Linked DNA regions of Homo sapiens. The protein of the gene in region 3 interacts with the protein of the main gene of each other region in a pairwise test. Each region holds a gene or a part of one and is shown on either strand. Other genes may lie near its edges.

What was found. The genes of interacting proteins can lie anywhere in the genome.
Region 1: the proteins of UBE2L6 (region 3) and ARIH2 interact in binary tests that used the Homo sapiens proteins (3 or more experiments, as listed by UniProt).
Region 2: the proteins of UBE2L6 (region 3) and RNF19B interact in binary tests that used the Homo sapiens proteins (3 or more experiments, as listed by UniProt).

What each region holds. Positions count from the first base shown.
Region 1 is NC_000003.12:48,914,073-48,921,865, reverse strand, and holds the start of ARIH2 (E3 ubiquitin-protein ligase ARIH2), read right to left. Parts: upstream 3,025-7,793; 5' UTR 2,868-3,024; exon of another isoform or gene 2,481-2,867; intron 1-2,480.
Region 2 is NC_000001.11:32,954,786-32,961,809, reverse strand, and holds part of RNF19B (E3 ubiquitin-protein ligase RNF19B), read left to right. Parts: intron 1-7,024.
Region 3 is NC_000011.10:57,551,155-57,557,689, forward strand, and holds the end of UBE2L6 (ubiquitin/ISG15-conjugating enzyme E2 L6), read right to left. Parts: intron 3,470-6,535; coding exon 3,283-3,469; intron 1,356-3,282; coding exon 1,204-1,355; 3' UTR 508-1,203; downstream 1-507. UniProt on the Homo sapiens protein: Catalyzes the covalent attachment of ubiquitin or ISG15 to other proteins. Functions in the E6/E6-AP-induced ubiquitination of p53/TP53. Promotes ubiquitination and subsequent proteasomal degradation of FLT3.

The DNA.
Region 1 (7,793 bases), on a different chromosome or scaffold from region 3:
GTGGGAGGATTTCTTGAGCACAGGAGGTTGAGGCTGCAGTGAGCCAAGATCACGCCACTACACTCCAGTCTAGGCGACAGAGTGAGACCCTGTCTTCAAAAAAGAAAAAAAAAAAGAAAAATTCCAGGACCACGTGTGGTGGCTCATGCCAGTAATCCCAGCACTTTGGTTTGGGAGGCCAAGGTGGGTGGACGGCTTCAGCTCAGGAGTTCAAAACAAGCCTGGGCAACATGGTGAAACCTCACTGCTACAAAAAACACAAAAATTAGCCAGGAATGGTGGCGCATACCTGTAATCCCAGCTACTCGGGAGGCTACGGCAGGAGAATTGCTTGATCTGGGAGATGGAGGCTGCAGTGAACCGAGACTGCACCACTGCACTCCAGCCTGGGCAACACAGTGAGACTCCGTGTCAAAAAAAAAAAAAAAAAAAAAGAAATTGCCCACAGGCTTTTCACCAACCAAATATTTAGGTGGGGAAAACTCCAGGCTCCTCCAAAAAAAAAAGAGAGAGAACTCCATTTCATACTAAATGTTCTAGGTGCAGATTTAAATGAAAATTTAATTTTTAATTATCTCAAAGTTAAATACCCAAATTCTACTTGAAAAAGTGGGCCGGGCACGGTGGCTCACGCCTGTGATCCCAACACTTTGGGAGGCTAAGGTGGCAGATCACAAGGTCAAGAGTTCGAGACCAGCCTAATCAACATGATGAAATCCTGTCTCTACTAAAAATACAAAAATTAGCTGGGCGTGGTAGCATGCGCCTATAATCCCAGCTACTCAGGAGGCTGAGGCAGGAGAATCGCTTGAACCCAGGAGGCGGAGGTTGCAGTGAGCCGAGATCGCGCCACTGCACTCCAGCCTGAGAGACAGAGCGGGACTCAAAAATAAAAATAAATAAATGAAAGAAAGAAAAAGTGCTGATCTTGTTCCAAGGGGACAATATTTCTTTTCTTTTCTTTCTTTTTTTTTTTTTTTGAGAGTCTTGCTGGAGTGCAGTGGCGCGATCTCGGCTCACTGGATTACAGGCGCCCGCCACCATGCCTGGCTAATTTTTTGTATTTTTAGTAGAGATGGGGTTTCACCGTGTTAGCCAGGATGGTCTCGATCTCCTGACCTCGTGATCCGCCCGCCTCGGCCTCCCAAAGTGAGGAGGATTATTTGAGTCCAGGAGATTGCAGCGAGCCATGATCACGCCACTGCCCTCCAACCAGCCTGGGTGTAATCCCAGCTGTAATCCCAGCTACTCGGGAGGCTAAGGCAGAACTGCTTGATCTGGGAGATGGAGGCTGCAGTGAACCGAGACTGCACCACTGCACTCCAGCCTGGGCAACACAGTGAGACTCCGTGTCAAAAAAAAAAAAAAAAAAAGAAATTGCTCACAGGCTTCTCACCAACCAAATATTTAGGTGGGGAAAACTCCAGGCTCCTCCAAAAAAAAAAGAGAGAGAACTCCATTTCATACTAAATGTTCTAGGTGCACATTTAAATGAAAATTTAATTTTTAATCATCTCAAAGTTAAATATCCGAATTCTACTTGAAAAAGTGGGCCGGGCACTTTTTCAAAAAAAATTTTTTTAAAGGTCATGCACAGTGGCTCACGCCTGTAATCCCAGCACTTTAGGAGGTCAAACCGGGAGGATAGCTTGAGCCCAGCAGTTCAAGACCAGCTTAGGCAACCTATTAAGATCACGTATCCACAAAAAATTTTACAAATTAGCCAGGTGTGGTGGTACGTGCCTGTGGTCCCAGCTACTTAGGAGGCTAAGAAAGGAGGATCACTTGAGCCCAGAAAGTCGGGGCTGCAGTTAGCTGTGATCGCCGCCACTGCACTCCAGCCTGGTGACAGCAACTTTGTCCCGCCCACCAAAAAAAAAAAAAAAAAAAATTTCCTCCAGAGCCAAAGTCACATGTTCAGGGGACCTAACAACCAACCATCCTGGGCTTGCCCACCACGCACAGAACACGTAAGTTTTAGTGAGTCTGAAGACGTTTACTCCAGATATGATCACTAGCGCTGAATTCAGGTCATTTACTAACTACACCTCCGAAGAAAAACGACTTGGCACAAAACTAGAAATCAGCAATTTCGTTTCAAAATCCTACACTTTGTATCTGTCTTTTCTAATACGGTGACCACTAGCCACATGTGGTTATTTAAATTTAATTACACTTAAAAAGTAAGTAAAATTTAAAATTTAGTTTCTCAGGTGCACTAGCCTACAGGTCAAATGCTTAACGGCCACGTGTGGCTAGTAGCTACCATGCTGAACAGCAAAGGTAAAGAACATGTCGCTATGACAGAAAGTTCTATGGGACCAGGCAATGAACAGTACTAAGGAGAAGTCATCCAAGAACGCGGCTGCCCAACCAGCTTCTGGCGAGGCGGCGGCACAGCTCCGGGGCCGCACATCCCTAGGGGCGCCGCGGGCTCCGGGATATTCGCGCGGACGCGGAGCCCGCGAGCTGGGGATACCCTCCACAGGCGGGCGTTAAACCGCGCGGGCAGCGCTGCGAGAGCTCCCAAAGATGACTCGAGTGGTGAGCCCCGAGGCGGCGCGTTTCCCCGCCGCGCCAGACAGGGAGAGAGGGCCTAGATGTGCCGGCGCCGGTTGGTCAGAGGCGGTGGCCTCTGACCTTTCCGAGAGCTGAGAAGGCGGCGGGAGGAAAAAAGGCAGACACACGCTGGGCGCCCGGCCGCTGACGGCGGGTAATGCTCGGACAACGTGCCGGCGACGGGGAGCGCCCGGGCCTCCCGGGCGACGGCGAAGGCGGAGTCCCGGCCCGGCCAGGGAGGCGCGCGGAGAGGCCCCCCCAGCGGCCAGCCAAGGTAAACAAGGCCGTGACGTGCGCCGCGCACTTACCGGGAGCTGCGGCCTCGCGGCCGCTGAGCCCGAACAAGCCAGACCGGGTCAGGCCGGGCCAGAGGGACCGGATTGGGGCGAAGCGGCAGCGGAGGCGGCGGGCCGACGCCGGTCAAGCCCGCGCTGCTTCCTCCAGAAGAGTCGTCCCCACAGCTCCGGAAGTGCTTGGCGCCGTTGCGTCACTTCCGGATCGGGGTCGACCCACGGTCGCTCGGGTCGCGACAGGCTCCCGGCTAGAGGGCCTGTTTAGCGCCGCCTCCTTGAAACTTAGCGCTCTGACCCAGAGTCTGACCAGGGTACGGCAGGCGCCGACCGCGTCTGGAGCCACTATTCGCCTACCAGCGTCTCCCGTCGAGATGTTTTTAACCAGCGCGTTTCTCACCGGCTTCTCATTTCACTGTTTGTACTCCGGGATCGGGCACGGAGAAGACATCCTGGCGTCAGTGGAGCAGATAACCATTGTTTCTCGGCCGCTATCTGGTCAGAGGGGAGCTGGGCCGGGAAATTCTGCCTACACCCCGAGGCGGTCGCAGGGTGGCCCCAGAGCCGCAACCACACCAGGCTTTCGCTTCCCCTGCCGAGGCCTCGTTCGCCGCGCAGTTCTCCGACTTACGGTCACCGTGCAAGATTGCATCTTAACTGCCTTGCTTGCAGTTTCTTTTCACAGTATAGGAGTTGTCATCATGACTTCCAGTTACCTTCTGGGACCGGTTGTCAAATGATGTGGCTAGAGACGGAGGCTCACTCAGATTGTTGCTGCACCACAATGGAAATGCCAGTATGAAGCCGCTGATGTTAGGAAGGCTCCAGGTTGTGCAATTCCATAGACAACAAATCAAATCATTTCCAACCATACTGGAGTCGCGTATATACATATTCAAGACACCTGTGCAGGCCGGGCGCGGTGGCTCAAGCCTGTAATCCCAGCACTTTGGGAGGCCGAGGCGAGTGGATCACGAGGTCAGGAGATCGAGACCATCCTGGCTAACACGGTGAAACCCCGTCTGTACTAAAAGTACAAAAAAATTAGCCGGACGTGGTGGCGGGCGCCTGTAGTCCCAGCTACTCGGGAGGCTGAGGCAGGAGAATGGCGTGAACCCGGGAGGCGGAGCTTGCAGTGAGTCGAGATGGCGCCACTGCACTCCAGCCTGGGCGACAGAGCGAGACTCTGTCTCAAAATAAAATAAAATAAAATAAAAAATAAAACAAATAAAGACACCTGTGCTGGCTGGTCGCTGTGGCTCATGCCTGTAATCCCTGCACTTTGGGAAGCCGAGGTGGGAGGATCGCTTGAGCCCAAGAATTTGATGTAGTGAGACCCCCCTCCTTTCTACAAAAAAATTAAAAATTAGCTGGGCGAGGTGGCACACACCTGTGCATCCCAGCTACTCAGGGGGCTGAGGTGATATAGGATCGCTTGAGCCGAGGAGGTCGAGGCTGCAGAGTGCCAAGATCGCACCACTGCAGTCCAGCATCGGTGATAGAAGGAGACCCTGTCTCAAAACAACAATAACAAACCATACAATGTAGAAAGCCATTAAAAATCATGCCGCGTGGCCGGGCACCGTGGCTCACGCCTGTAATCCCAGCACGTTGGGAGGCCGGAGCCGGCAGATCACGAGGTCAGGAATTCGAGACTGGCCTGACCAGCATGGTGAAACCCTGTCTCTACTAAAAATTTACAAAATTTGCCGGGCGTGATGGTGGGCGCCTGTAGTCCCAGCTACTCGGGAGGCTGAGGCAGGAGAATTGCTTGAACTCGGCAGGCGGAGGTTGCAGCGAGCAGAGATCGCGCCACTGCACTCCAGCCTGGGGGACAGAGCGAGACTCTGTCTCAAACAACAACAACAACAAAAACCTTGTCGGGTGGACTGCTCTGCCTATGGAGTAGCAATTACTTTTTTTTTTTTTTTTTTGAGACGGAGTCTCGCTCTGTCGCCCAGGCTGGAGTGCAGTGAGAGAGCCGCTATCTCCGCTCACTTCAACCTCCGCTTCCTGGGTTCAAGTGATTCTCCTGCCTCAGTCTCCCGAGTAGCTGGGACTACAGGCGCGCACCACCGCGCCCAGCTAATTTTTTTTTTTTTTTTTTTTTTTTGACGGAGTCTCTCTCTGTTGCCCAGGCTGGAGTGCAGTGGCGCGATCTAGGCTCACTGCAAGCTCCGCCTCCCGGGTTCACGCCATTCTCCTGCCTCAGCTTCCCGAGTAGCTGGGACTACAGGCGCCCGCCACCACGCCTAATTTTTTTTGTATTTTTAGTAGAGACGGGGTTTCACCGTGTTAGCCAGGATGGTAATTTTTGTATTTTTAGTAGAGACAAGGTTTCATCATGTTGGCCAGGATGGTCTGGATCTCTTGACTCCTTGATCCGCCCACCTCGGCCTCCCAAAGTTCTGGGATTACAGGCGTGAGCCACTGCTCCTGGTCTCCTTTGTTTCTTTACTTCTCTAATAAACTTGCTTTCACTTTACCAAAAAAAATGAAATAAATCATACTGGGTGGCAGGGCATGGTGGCTCAAGCCTGTAATCCCAGCACTTTGGGAAGCCAAGGTGAGAGGATTGCTTGAGCCCAGGAGTTGGAGACCAGCCTGGGCAACATAGTGAGATTCCATGTCTACAAAAAAAAGAAAAAGTTTTGGCCAGGTGTGGTGGCTCACGCCTGTAATCCCAGCACTTTGGGAGGCTGAGGCAGGTGGATCACTTGAGCCTAGGAGTTCAAGACCAGCCTGAGCAACATGGTGAAACCCCGTCTCTACAAAAAATACAAGTTAGCTGGATGTGCTTATAGCTCCACCTACTTGGGAGGCTGAGGTGGGAGGATCACTTAAGACCCAGGATGTGGAGGCTGCAGTGAGCAAGAGATCGGGCTACTGCACTCCAGCCTGGGGGACAGAGCCAGAACCTGTCTTCAAAAAAAGAAAAAAAAATGCTGTACTAAGGCACCTATTGACAAGGAAAGGTTATTTGTGATATACTCAAGTGATAAGAATAGGATAGGGGCCGGGTGTGGTGGCTCACACCTGTAATCCCAGCACTTTGGGAGGTGGAGGCGGGCGGATCGCCTGAGGTCAGGAGTTCCAGACCGGCCTGACCAACATGGCAAAACCCTGTCTCTACTAAAAAATACAAAAATTAGCCAGGCATGGTGGTGCATGCCTGTAATTCCAGCTACTCGGGAGGCTGAGGCAGGGAGAATAACTTGAACCCGGGAGGCGGAGGTTGCAGCGAGCCGAGATTGCACCACTGCACTCCAGCCTGGGCAACACAGTAGCTCTGTCTCAAAAAAGAAAAAGTAAATAAAATATGAATGCATATAAAATATACAAAGTCTCTCATGGTTTCTTTGGAACAGGAATCCAGACAAGCCACAATGGGAAGGTTTATCTCAGCTCCACAGCTGAGGGGGCCTCAGCAAGAAGACTCAAAGACTGGGGAGTGGAATCATAGGCAAAGTTGTTTACTCATACTTCTGGTGGGTGATGTCAGCTGGGGGCCTAGCTGGGGCTGTCAGCCAGAACATACACATGCATGATCTCTCCATGTGGCCTGTGCTTCCTGGTAACATGGTGGCTGGATTTGAAGGGCAAAGGTCTTTTTTTTTTTTTTTTTGAGACAGAGTATCACTCTATCGCCCAGGCTGGAGTGCAGTGGCATGATCTCAACTCACTGCAACCTCCTGGGTTCAAGTGATTCTTGTGCCTCAGCCTCCATAGTAGCTGAGATGTCAGGATGACAGGCGTGCACACCATGTTCAGCTATTTTTTCTGTTTTTTTTTCTTTGAGATGGAATTTTGCTCTTGTTGCCCAGGCTGCAGTACAATGGTGCGATCTCGGCTCACCACAACCTCCGCCTCCCGGATTCAAGCAATTCTCCCCGCTCAGCCTCCCAGGTAGCTAGGATTACAGGCATGCACCACCATGCCTGGCTAATTTTGTATCTTTAGTAGAGACGGGGTTTCTCCATGTTGGCCAGGCTGGTCTTGAACTCCTGACCTCAAGCCATCTGCCTGCCTCGGTCTCCCGAAGTGCTGGGATTACAGATGTGAGCTGCCAGGCCCAGTCAATTTTTGTATTTTTAGTAGAAATGGGATTTCACTGCCAGGCGCGGTGGCTCACACTTGTAATCCCAGCACTTTGGGAGGCCGAGACGGGCAGATTGCCTGAGGTCGGCAGTTCGAAACCAGCTTGCCCAACATGGTGAAACCCCGTCTCTACTAAAAAATACAAAAATTAGCCGGGCTTGGTGGTGGGCACCTGTAATCCCAGCTACTTGGGAGGCTGAGGCAGGAGAATTGCTTGAACCTGGGAGGTGGAGGTTGCAGTGAGCCAAGATCGCGCCACTCGTGCCACTGCACTCCAGCCTGGGCGACAAAGTGAGACTCTGTCTCGAGAAAAAAAAAAAAAAAAGAAAGAAATGGGGTTTCACCATGTTGGCCAGGCTGGTCTAGAACCCCTGGTCTCTAGTGATTTGCCTGTCTCAGCTTCCCAAAATTCTGGGATAACAGGTGTGAGCCACTCTGGCCGGCCAAGGGCAAGGGTCTTAAGAGAGTGAGAGCCAAGTGGAAGCCATGTTGCCCTTTGTGGCCTAACCTTCAAAGTCACACGGCATTACATCTGCCACATTTTATTAGTCAAAGCAGTTACAAAGATCCTCTCAGGTTCAAGGGGAGGGAATGCAGCTCCACCGTCAATGGAGAAACACCAACACTGCATTATAAGCAAAGCATATAAAATGAGATACAGGTTGGTGTAGCCATTTTTGGAAAATATGTGTCACAAAGCACATATTGCATATATCAGTATATCTCTCATCTTATTCATCTTTGTTTTTATTGAATTTAATTATGCAACTAATGTAATGATAACATGAAGTTGTAAAAATGTAATACAAGAATACTGATAGCAGCTTGTGAATACTCCCGTTAATA
Region 2 (7,024 bases), on a different chromosome or scaffold from region 3:
AGAAAATAATTTTCAAGCTTGGTGACAACTCTCAACTATTTGGAAGTTATTAAAAAATTAGGCCATTTCTTATTTTAGCCAAGTATTATGTTAGTATCCTCCAGATTTTATTTTTTTAATTAGTTAGAAGAATGATAATCATATATATAGTTATATATATAAACAATGTATTTTTTTATATGTGTCATCTACGGACTTAAGGTGGAGTTTGGGGAAAGAAGAAAGCTGGCCTCTCAATACCTGTGTGCCAGGTATATATAATTTAATTCGATACAACCTTGTGAGATAGGTTTAGGTTTGATATAGTTTTATAAATGAGGAAACTAAAGTTTAAGGAAATTGAATGACTTGTTCAGGGTCATATAACTAGTAAGTGGTGGAACCAGGCTTAGAACAGGGGTCTTAATTCCAACCAATGCCAATATTCCTTCCATTCAGCCCCTGTTTTAAAAAGCATTTGCTTGTCAACATAGCCGCATTATTGAGGATGCTGCTGCTTGGGTGCATTTCATTAAGTGTAGCCTGAGGACAACATGGAGAAAGCCAAAGATACTAGAGTCTAGTTTCCTTTCTGATTCCTGTTGTTAACAGCCTCCTACCTACGTTATTTTTCTTATCTGAAATAGGTCTAATTCTTTCCTGACTTGAGAGGTTTAATTAATGTTTACACGGTGTTTTGAGATCTTCAGTTGAAAGTGGTTATAGGGAGTAACTTTAAAATTCTGTTAGTTGCCAAATAGATGCCTGAGTTCTCCCTTGGGATGTGCCTAGTGGCTTTGCATCTCTTTTTTTTTGAGACAGCGTCTCGCTCTGTCACCCAAGCTGGAGTGCAGCAGTGGTGCAATCACGGCTCACTGCAGCCTCAATCTCCTGGGCTCAGGCGATCCTCCTGCCTCAGCATCTCAAGTAGCTGGGAACACGGGTGCATGCCACCAAGCCCAGCTAATTATTATTATTAATATTATTATTATTATTTGTAGAGATAGGGTCTCCCTGTGTTGCCCAGGCTGGTCTCGAACTCCTGGGCTCAAGCTGTTTTCCCGCCTTGGCCTCCCAAAGTGCTGGGATTATTGCTGCCTCTTTTTAATGCCAGGAAAAAAAATAGCTTCTGTGTTCTTACTGGATGTCATGGTTCCCTTGTTTTGTTTTGAACAGTGTTGTTTTGTTTTGTTTTAGAGACAGAGTCTCACTCTGTGCCCAGGCTGGAGTGCAGTGGCATGATCATGGCTTACTACAACCTTGAACTCCTTGACTAAAGCAGTACTCCCACCTCAGCCTCCTGAGTAACTGGGATTATAGGCACGAACCACTGCACACTGCTCCTTTGTTTTATTTTTTTAAACAAATCGTTCTATTCTTCTGGGGCTGGTAGAGGTCATTGATAAACACTAGAAGAGAAGTCCAAGTCCCAGTTACCTCCTATTCCCATACCTGACCATCTTTACTGCCCACAGATAAAGTTCTTGCCAGCCAAATTGATCAGGTCTCCCCTCTGCCTTGTTTGTATGTGCATTTGGTAGGGTGAGGGGGGCATGTGAGCAATCTTACAGGTTCTGATCATTAGTTTTACTATAATTACTCATAATAACAAGAACACCATACATTCAGAGATTCATGATTTGTTTACAGAATATTTGTAGGATAGAGCAAAGAGTTTTGGATTTTTCTTCTCTTACACTCAAATATGGTTTTATTTTATTCATAAATAAGGGAACCAATTTCAGTGGGAAAACATTCACATTATAATTTTTTTTTTTTTGAGACGGAGTCTCGCTCTGTCACCCAGGCTGGAGTGCAGTGGCACCATCTCTGCTCAGTGCAAGCTCTGCCTGCCGGGTTCACGCCATTCTCCTGCCTCAGCCTCCTGAGTAGCTGGGACCACAGGCGCCCACCACCACGCCTGGTTAATTTTTTTTTTTTTTTTTTTTGTATTTTTAGTAGAGACGGGGTTTCACCGTGTTAGCTAGGATGGTCTCGATCTCCTGACCTCGTGATCTGCCCACCTCGGCCTCCCAAAGTGCTGGGATTACAGGCGTGAGCCACTGTGCCCGGCCTCACATTATTATTTAATATACTAAGAACAATATGGCCTAGTATAATCTTAAAACAAGCTGTCAAATGAGATAAAATTAGTTCAAAATACAAATAACTGATTTTTTATAGTTCTTTATAGTCTTCAGACTATAATCTCATTCAGACATAATTTCATTTTAGTCTCATCCAGGTGGATATTGGCGTGCATTTTATAAAGGAGAAACCAGTTCAGAGAAGTTTAAACATGGGGCCTAGTGTTTCATTGCTAATAATTGGTACAATTGATCTTTTACGCTTTTGAGTCTCTGCCCAAGTATGTCTTTTCAGAAACCCCGAAGTCAGGTAACTGTAATGTTTTCCTCTCAAGTATCCTGTTGCTAATCTTAAAACCCTTTCAGAATCTCTAGGAGACTGACGGGTGAGCAAAGTAGGCAACAGAAAATTTCCTGGTGTACAGGGGCAGATCTTCTGTACAGATGAATAAGAAGGGATAAGGCTGTCTTGACCTAAATTCTTTGTGCAGGTCCACCACTCCAGCCTTTCATTGCTGCCTCTGTCCTCTGCAGAATCCTTCCTCCCACCTGATCCCAGGAAACAGTATCAGCTATTGGCCTTCCCAGACAACTAGACTGGACCATCCCATAAACAGGAAGCTTTTTTCATCCCTAGCACATTTATGAGGGAAGATCAAGCAAGCTCTTTGAGCAAGACAAATTTCAGTCAGTGAAGGAGGATTTTTGCTTTCTGAAGCCTCCCTGAACCTCTTCTCTTGATTTGGCTCCATACCTCCTGTTCCACAACTTTTCCCTGCATTCCCCAACTCCACACCACCCCCTCCTCTTGTGCACGTACACCAACCTCCATCCCAATACATCTGTCTCAGATTTGCCAAAGTACTTGTACTAAAGGAGAACATCTGTATCACTCCCCTGCCTAAGACTATTCATTGACTACCTAACCTATAAGATGAGTTCTTATTATGTCTTTGAGAACTTATTTGATCTACCCTTATCATTTAAGCTCCTTTACAGTTTCCAACCATCTTTTTTTTTTTTTTAGATGGAGTCTCGCTCTGTTGCCCAGGCAGGCTGGAGTGCAGTGGTGCAATCTCGGCTCACTGCAAGCTCCACCTCCCGGGTTCATGCTATTCTCCTGCCTCAGCCTCCTGAGTAGCTGGGACTACAGGCACCTGCAACCATGCCTGGCTAATTTTTTGTATTTTTAGCAGAGACGGGGTTTTACCGTGTTAGCCAGGATGGTCTCGATCTCCTGACCTCGTGATCCACCCATCTCAGCCTCCCAAAGTGCTGGGATTACAGGCGTGAGCCACCACGCCCGGCCATCTCCAACCATCTTTTGATTTTATTTTCTATTTTTCACTCACATCACTATTTCCTAAGGTATGTTATAGGCATTACTTGAAAGAAAAATGTTTTGTGAGGAAATAAGCTTGGAAAATACTGAGTTAAACAAAATAAAACAAGTTTATGAGTTTCTTAAATCTTTAAACATGCTAATATGCTAATATGTAGTATAAATCTTCAATATAATGTAATTTCCCCAATTTAGATCACCAGGAAACAGGTTTTTGTTTTTTCTGTAGCATCTTTAAGGCTTAACTCAAACTTTCCCTAAACTCCTTTAATAGTTACCATGCTGGCCTGCCTTTGGTTAGTGTCCTTATTTAACCATAAACCTTATGCTCTGAATAGATTGAGAGCTCATGTCTCTAGACTAGGATATCTATATTCCAACCATTTCTACAACTCTGTGTACAAAGTCTTTCAATTAGGCTCTAGAAGAGTGTGGTACATAGATGAATTTTGATGAAAAAGATAAGAAATATGAGCAGCATAGTTCTCAGAGGAAGAATAGAGATGAAAGAGATAAGCAAGAATAGTATAGACAGGTGATCATTCAATTCAACAGACAACTTTTTTTTGAGATGGAGTCTCGCTTTGTCGCCCAGGCTGGAGTGCAGTTGTGCCATCTCAGCTCACTGCAACCTCTGCCTCTCGGGTTCAAGCGATTCTTCTGCCTCAGCCTCCCAAGTATCTGGGATTACAGGCATGTGCCACAATGTCCAGCTAATGTTTGTATTTTTAGTAGAAACAGGGTTTCACCATGTTGGCCAGGCTGGGCTTGAATTCCTGACTTCAAGCGAGCCACCCGCCTCACCCTCCCAAAGTGCTGGGATTACAGGTGTGAGCCACCACACCTGGCTTCAACAGATACTTTCAGAATGATACACTGTTGAACCCTGGGTGAGTACTGGGTATTTCAAAAAGAACTTAGACATGGTTTTCTTGATAGGAAGTTTCACCTGGTAGAGGAGACAGATAATTGATACATAGATAGATAGAAAATTATTCAAATGTCATATGATAAATACTAAAGAAAATACGGGTGCTCTTAGATAGATGAAAGAACAATAGAATTTGCATGATGGTTTCAAGAAAGACTTCACAGAGGAGCAGGCATGGTGGTGTGCACCTGTGGTCCCAGCTGCTTAGGAGGCTGAGGTGGGAGGATTAGTTGAGCCCAGGAGTTCGAGACCAGCCTGGGTAATAGCAAGACCCCATACCTGGGAAATGACTAGAGATCAACCTGAAAACGTGGACTGGATTCAGGTTGATAGGCCTGTGTAAGCCATGGAAATAAGTTTTGGGTTGAAGCACTTTTTTTCTTTTTTCTTTTTCTTTGAAGGATTTTAAGCAAAAGAGTAACCTTCCAGAATGGAATTTGGATGGAGTGGGGAATAGGGAGAGCAGATAAGGAGGCTCTTGGAGTTGTCTAGCCTAGAGATGGGTCTTAAATAGGGCAGGAAAAATGAAGATGTTAAGGGTACAGTTCATTGTGACAAGTTGGCGCATGTCTACCACCCTGATGCCTACTAGGGGTCTATTTGTAAATGGGTAGCCTAGTTATGTTACATGACTTGGGGATGGAAAGTACAGACATAATATAGGAACACATTTCTTTAACCACTGAAGTCTATTGGAGCATAATCAAATTTATACTAATGGAAATCTCTTTCCAGGGCTGAAGCTAAGTAATGCTGTGGTCTAGCTTGTCACTTTATGAAGTTTCTGAAGATTTAGGAAATTAATAAAATGAGTAAAAGTTGTATGAACTTAAGCAGCAGGGGCTGGGGTGGGCGGTCTGTAGTCTTTTTCTTTTTTATTATTTTTTATTTTTTTGAGATAGGGTTTAACTCTGTAACTCTGTTGCCCGTGCTGGAGTGCAGTGGTGCAATTTCAGCTCACTAGAACCTCAACCTCCCAGGCTCAGGTGATCCTCCCACCTCAGCCTCCTAAGTAGCTGGGACTGCAGGCATGTGCCACCACACGCCACCGCGCCCCACCACACTCGGCTAATTTTTGTTGTTGTTGTTATTTGAAGAGAGAGTCTCACTCTGTCACCCAGGCTGGAGTGCAGTGGTGCAATCTCGGCTCACAGCAACCTCTGCCTCCTGGATTCAAGTGATTCTCCTGCCTCAGCCTCCCGAGTAGCTGGGAGTAGCTGGGACTACAAGTGCACGCCACCATGCCCAGCTAATTTTTTTGTATTTTTAGTAGAGAGGGGTTTTGTCAGGTTGGCCAGGCTGGTCTCGAACTCCTGACCTCAGGTGATCCACCCACCTCAGCCTCCCAAAGTGCTGGGATTACAGGCATGAGCCACCATGCCCGGCCTAATTTTTGTGTCTTTCGTAGAGATGGGATTTCACCATGTTGCCCTGGCTGGTCTTGAACTCTTGGGTTCAAGTGATCCTCCTGCCTTTGCCTGACAAAGTTCTGGGGTTATGGGCATGAGCCACTGCACCCAGCTGTGTCTGTATTCTTCACAGCATGTAATTTTCTACACCTTTCTTTTAGCTTCTGATTAGCAAGCCTGACTGATTGGTTAAGCTAAAAGAGCAGAGTAGGAGAGATGCACCAGCATGGGACGTGGAAGAGAAGGAACAAAGTGGACAGGGCAGATTGGGTTTCAAGGATGAGGTATTTTCTTTTCTTTTTTTTTTTTTTTTGAGACAGGGTTTAGCTCTGTCTCCCAGGCTGGAGTGCAGTGGCACGATCTTGGCTCACTGCAGCCTCCACCTCCCGGGCTGTAGCCGTCCTCCCACCTCAGCCTCCTGAGTAGCTGGGACTACAGGCATGCACTACAGGCATGCACCACCACGCCTAGCTAATTTTTGTATTTTTTTTTTTTGTAGAGATGGGGTTTTGCCATGTTGCCCAGACTGGTCTCGAACTCCTGAGCTCAAGCAATCCACCCACCTTGGCTTCCCAAAGTGCTGGGATTACAGGTGTGATCCACCATGCCCAGGCGAGGTTTTTTTTTTCCAACTATTCGGGAAGAAGATTACCGTATTCAGAACTTAGGGGTTTACCACTAAAGTGGGTTTATATGAAATTTTAGGATTAGGTTATAGTACCTGGCATATAATAAGCCAATAGATACATGGATACATTGAAAAGATTGCTTTAGAGCAGAGTGATGGCCTAGGAGAAGACCTAGAATGTCCTAGGGAAGGTCAAACAACCAAAACAAGAGAGGGTCTCTGTCATTCATGCAACACAGGTATTTTGAGCATGAACCAGTATACTAGACTGAGATTAAAAAGTGGATGATATGTCTCCTTAAGTCCAGTGTGGTTTGGAAGGCAAGCATATAAACAGTTAGTTACATTATAATGTAAGTGTTATAAAATAATTGTGCACACCCACGAAGTAGGCAACGAGCTGCCTAGAGAGGTTAAGTATATTTTACAGAGAAAATGACACCTGAGTTGGTTCTTAAATGGGTACTTGTCAGGGCAAGAAGTAAGGACAAGACATTTCTAGGTAGAAGGAATAGAGTATGTAAAAGCCAGAAAGTAGGACAGAGTGTACGATGTTTTTACGCCATATATCTTTGAGGACAAGGTCTCACATGCAGTTTTAGAACGTGTTTAGCTACGTTTGAATGTGACAAGTACCTATACCTCCAT
Region 3 (6,535 bases):
CACCTATAATCCCAGCACTTTGGGAGGCTGAGGCGGGTGGATCACCTGAGGTCAGGAGTTCGAGACCAGCCTGGCCAATGTGGTGAAACCCCATCTTTACTAAAAATACAAAAATTAGCCAGGCGTGGTGGCGGGCATCTGTAATCCCAGTTACTCAAGAGACTGAGGCAGGAGAATCGCTTGAACTCAGGAGGCGGAGGTTGCAGTGAGCCGAGATTGCACTGCTGCACTCTAGCCTGGGCGACGGAGTGAGATTCTGTCTTAAATAAATAAATAAATAAATAAATAAATAAATAAATAAAATAAAATGGGGACGTCACCCCTGTGGACCTTCTGAAAGCTCCTCTGTCCAAGGATGGCCTATTTTTCCATGGCCAACATTCCTTATGATGTTTAGGGAACATTCAAGGGAAGCAAGGTCAGAAATTTATGCTTAAATCCCTAGTCCTCTATGGTCCTGATGAAACCACCCCATCCCCTCATCAAAGACTCAGCTGCACTCCAGAATTCATCTCTGACTTTAATGGCTTAAGCAAGAACATGGTTTCCGTGGCTCCCCCTGGACTGAATGCTGGAGGATATATACTTCACAGTCTGAGGCCTGGTCCCAGGAACTGGCAATCTAACAGGATGGCAAGTGGTTTTGAAACATATAGATTTTCAGGATGGAAGTTTGATTCTTCAGATTGTGACTCATCCGTGGAAAATAAATGGTTTAGCACCTAAATCTGTATATTCCCATCAGTGGCTTGGCTGACTCAGTTGTAAATAGGGTACCCTCCATCTGTCTCCCACCCATATGCTCCACTGTCCCCAGGCCCTCAGTGCCTGAGCCCTAGGGGGATTCGAGTTGGCTGCTGGATTCATTTCCTGCAAGCAGGCCTGCAAGGTGACCTGTCTCTCTAAGATGGAGAGCTGGAGAACTGGCCTGTAACTGCAAACTTAAACTCCCTTGGCTCTGGGGAATGTAAAGGGTGTGGGAAGGGTGCACCTGTGGCCAGGTGAACCTGGGAGTGAGTCCATACACAACACACACACTCATAGCTCCCTTCCCTCCACCACACACACACACAAACTAATGACTAACAACCTAAGAAGGGAAAAATGAATGGGGAATGGGCCACAGGGGGCTCTGGCCTCAGTCCATGAGGTGTGTCCGTCCGCTATGCCGAGGATCCAGTGCACAGAGGGTCAGAACATGAGTTAGGAGGGCCGGTCCACTCCGAATCGGAGGGTGAACTCTTCGGCATTCTTTCTGAACAGCTCCGGATTCTGTGTCAGCAGGTCAGCGAGGTCCATCCGCAGGGGCTCCCTGATATTCGGTCTATTCACCAGCACATTGAGGGCCTCCAGGACTGGGGAGAGACAGGCCAGATCAGGATATCAGGGCAGAGGGAAGGGAGTCATGGCTGCCCGTTCCCAATGTCCTGACACTCCACACTCACTCCTTGGGGGAAAGGTTACATCGCTTAGGATTACTCTACGACCAGATCAAACGCCCCGCTCATTCTTGGCTGGTGACACCCAAGGCCTTGACTGATTACATCAGTGGTTTTCAAACAACTACATTCCATGGCTTCAGAGAAGCTCCTCATCACAGGGGCCACTGAGATAAGTGAGGTTTCTGGGTCTTATCCCCATTTCAACAAAAACTGCTCTGTTTTCCTCCATTATATTGGTAGTCCAAATAAACTTTTCCTTGGGCAAAAGAGGTCTAAGGCTAAAGACTGAAAACCACCACTGCCCCCTGGCTCTTCATCTTTCACAGATGCCTTTGGGAACCTAGTGAAGGCAGCAGCCCATCTCCCGAGACAGATGTGCACATCCACATGCAAAACAGACAGTTCCCAGACCCCCTGAAGCTCATCCAAGGACCACTCCTCTCCCTGCTCCCACTCCCACCAACCTAAGGACTTTCATTTCCTGAGTTAAAAACTCCTGAGCTGGTCCAGGTGGAGGATTGCACACTGATTCAGCCACAGGCTCTAGAGCTGTGTTGTTCAATATGGTAGCCATTAGCCACATGCAGGCATCTAAATTTAAATGAATTAAAATCAGGCTGGGCACGGTGGCTCACGCCTGTAATCCCACCACTTTGGGAGGCCAAGATGGGTGGATGGCTTGAACTCACGAGTTTGAGACCAGCCTGGGCAATATGGCAAAACCTGGTATCTACAAAGCATGCAAAAATTAGCCAGGTATAGTGGCATGCTCCTGTAGTCCCAGTTACTCGGGAGGCTGAGGTGGGAGGATGGCTTGAGCCCAGGAGGTGGAGGTTGCAGTGAGCCAAGATTGCGCCACTGAACTAACTGCCTGGGCAATAGAGACAGACCGTGTCTCAGTAGAAAAAACAAAAAGGATTAAAATTAAGTACAATTAAGAATTGAGTTCTGGCCAGGCGCAGTGACTCACACCTGTAATCCCAGCACTCTGGGAGGCGGAGGCAGGCGGATCGCCTGAGGTCAGGAGTTCGAGACCAGCCTGGCTAACATGGCAAAACCCCTCTCTATTAAAAATACAAAATAGCTGGGTGTGGTGTCATACGCCTGTAATTCCAGCTATTCAAGAAGCTGAGGCCGGAGAATCGCTTGAACCTGGGAGGTGGAGGTTGCAGTGAGCCAAGATCGCGCCACTGCACTCCAGCCTAGGCGACAGAGCGAGACTCTGTCTTAAAAAAGAAAAAGAATTGAGTTCTTCAGTTGCAACAGCCACATGTGGCTTGCGAGTCAGCCAAGTGCTGCCGTTTGTCATCTGTATGACCTTAGGCAACCACTTCACCTCTCACATGCCTCAGATGTCCGGGTCTACTAAACAACACTACCTCACGGGCTTGTTGGGGAAATAAAAATGAAGTCGGCAGGTGATGTTTTTAGCACAGTGCCGAAAGTGCTCAGTCAAGTGACAGGTATTATCATTATGAGGCCAGTTCCCTCCACTGTCATTTAGGACACCGAGTCCCAGAAAGGAACGAAAACTTGCCCAAAGTCCACAGAGGGAACAGCGGGCTTTCTTTTCCCGAGCCCTTCCCTGTGCAGCCAAGCTGCCTCTCCCATGAACCGCAGCAACGTTCCTCTGTCACAACTGCACAGGTATAAGAAGAGAGGCAGGAGGAGGTCAGTCTGTCCAGGAAGCATCCCTTCTATCTCATAGTAAGTTCAGCCAAGACTCACAATTTTTATCTCCTCTCTTTGGGGCTTTTCAAGCTCAGAATAAGCTGTGAACCCCCTCTCCAGTAATCTCTACCCAGTATCAGTCCCTCCTCCAAGCAAAGCCCAACCCCACCTTGGCAAGTCTTGGTGCAAGGCTTCCAGTTCTCACTGCTGATGATGGGCAGGCAAATCTGTCCGTTCTCGTCCACGTTGGGGTGGTAGATCTTGGTTGTGAATTTGATCATGGGAGGCTTGAACGGATACTCCGGCGGGAAGCTGATGCGCAGGTTGAAGGCTTTCAGGTGGTAGGGAGGTTGGTCCTGTGCAGAGAGAAAAGGGGTCAAGCTCCAGTCTGGTTTTCCTCCCTTCCTGCCCCAATCCGAGGGTCCTAGGCATCCTCTGCTTCACTCCCAGGAGGAATCATGAGCCAGGACACACACAGCACCTGCATTCATTTGACAATTGAGTCATGGATTAGTGAAAATGTGAAATCACCAAAGGGCACTGGCCTGGGAGGCAGAGAAGTCTGATCCTGGCTTTTGCTGTGTGACCACGGGTGAGCCACTTCCCACCTCTAGGCCTCAGTTTCCTCATTTGAAAAGTGGATAAAGATGGACTAGATGAGCTCTAAGGACCATCTCAGCTTTCAAGACTTTCTGAGATTATGGAAGAAAAGGATGGAACATCCTTTCTTAAAACATTAGAATGGGGGTGAGGAAATGGAGAAAATGAGGAAATCCTAAGAACTCAGGAGCTTAGGAAAATAAAATGGTGCAGCTGTGATGGAAAACAGTATGGCCATTTCTCAAAAGATTAGACACAGAATTACCATATGATCCAGCAGTTCTACTTCTGGGTAGACACCCAAAGAACTGAAAGCAAACAGGTATTTGTATACCAATGTTTCTAGCAGCCAAAAGGTGAAAGCAAACCAAGTGTCTATCAATGGATCAATCAACAAAACGTGGCATATACACACAATGGAGTATTATTTAGCCTTAAAAGGAATGAAATTCTGATATATGCTACAACACGGATGAACCTTGAAGACACTATGCTACAGGAAATAAGCTAGACAAAAAAAGGACAGATTTGCAAGATACCACTTATGTGCAGTACCCAGAATAGTCAAATTCATAGAAACAAAATACAAAAGTGGTCACCAGGTGCTGGGGAAAGAAAGGAATGGGGAGTTACTGAAGGGGTACAGAGTTTCAGTACAGGTAGACAAAAAGTTCTAGAGATGAACGGTGGTGATGGTTGTGCAACAATGTGTGTTTGTTTGTTTACTGAAGCAGGGTCTCGCTCTGTCACCCAGGCTGGAGTGCACTGGCATTATCATTGCTCACTGTAATCTCAAACTTCTGGGCTCAAGTGATCCTCCCACCTCAGCCTCCTGAGTAGCTGGTACTACAGGGGCCCACCACCATATCTGGCTAATTAAAAAAATTTTTTTGATAGGGTCTCACTGTGCCAGGGCTGGTCTTGAACTCCTGGACTTGAGCAATCCTTTTGCTCTGGCCTCCAGATTACTGGGATTACGAGCGTGAGCCACCATGCCCAGCTGTAATCCTATTTAATCCTATTTAATGACACTGAACTATATACTTAAAAATGGTTAAGATAGTAAATTTTGTTATGTGTATTTTACTATGATTAAAAACAAACAAACTCAGGGGCTGGAGTGACCTAGGGGTTGGGAGCTGCAAGGAGCCAGCAGAAGACCCTCTAGACTTTGAGCCACCTGAACACTTTTCTGAGCACCTGTCTGTGCTGTCCTGTGCTAAGGGTTTGACATGCATTAGCCTGTGCAACAGAGTATGGGGGTCACACAGACTCCGGAGCCACCCTGCCTGGGTGTGATTCAACTCTGACACTCACTAGCCATGTGATCTAACTAGGTCAGGTGCGGTGCCTCACGTTTGTAATCCCAGCACTTGGAGCCACCCTGCCTGGGTGTGATTCGGCTCTGACACTCACTAGCCATGTGATCTAACTAGGCCGGGCACGATGGCTCACGTTTGTAATCCCAGCACTTTGGGAGTCCAAAGTGGGCAGATCCCCTGAGGTCGGGAGTTCAAGACAAACCTGACCAACATGGAGAAACCCTGTCTCTGTTAAAAATGCAAAATTAGCCGGGTGTGGTGGTGCATGCCTGTAATATCCGCTACACGGGAGGCTGAGGCAAGAACCGAGAGGCAGAAGTTGAACCTGGGAGGCTGACGTTGTGGTGAGCAGAGATCACACCCTTGCACTCCAGCCTGGGCAACAAGAGCAAAACTCCGTCTCAAAAAAAAAAAAAAAAAAAAAAAGAGAGATGGAGTAAAAAAAAGTAGGAAGATAAAGAAAATATCTCATTTTTTATGGTCTCAGTAAGGAGAAAAGGCTGTGCCTATCAGTCAGAGAAGGCCAACAGCTGAGGCCTCAGAGCAGGATGGGAGGGTGCTGTGGTTGGATGTTTTGTCTCCTCAAATCTCAGGTTGAAATTTGATCCCCAAGACCTACGTGGCGGTGGCTCGCGCCTGTAATCCTAGCACTTTGGGAGGCTGAGGCAGATGGATTGCCTGGGCTCAGGAGTTTGAGATCAGCCTGGGCAACATGATAAAACCCCGCCTCCACTAAAATACAAAAAGGTAGCTGGGCGTGGTAGCATGTGCCTGTAGTCCCAGCTACTCAGGAGGCTGAGGCATGAGAATTGCTTGAATCCAGGAGGCAGAGGTTGCAGTGAGTCTTGCTCTGCACTCCAGAGTGAGACTCTGTCACCAAAAAAAAAAAAAAGGAAAGAAAAGAAAAGAATTTGATCCCCAATGTTGGAGGTGGGGCCTACCAGGAGGCGTATGGGTCCTGGGGGCAGACCTCCCACGAATGGCTCCGTGGAATGGCTCCGTGCCAACCTCACAGTCATAAGAGAGTTCTTACTCTATTACTTACTGAAAAAGCTGGTTGTTTAGAAGATCCTGGCACCTGCTCGCTCTCTCTCTCTTTCACTTCTTCTCTTGCATGTGATCTGTACACGTGGCTCCCCTTTGCCTTCCACCATGAGTGGAAGCTTCCTGAGGCCTCATCAGAAGGAGATGCTGGTGCCATGCTTCTTTTTTTTTTTTTTTTTGAGATGGAGTTTCACTTTGCTGCCCAGGCTGGAGTGCAATGGCGTGATCTCGGCTCACCGCAACCTCTGCCTCCTAGGTTCAAGCGATTCTCCTGCCTCAGCCTCCCAACTAGTTGGGATTATAGGCATGCACCACCACACCCAGCTAATTTTGTATTTTTGGTAGAGACAGGGTTTCTCCATGTTGGTCAGGCTGGTCTTGAACTTCTGACCTCAGGTGATCCGCCCTCCTCGGCCTCCCAAAGACATGGGATTATAGACGTGAGCCACCATGCCC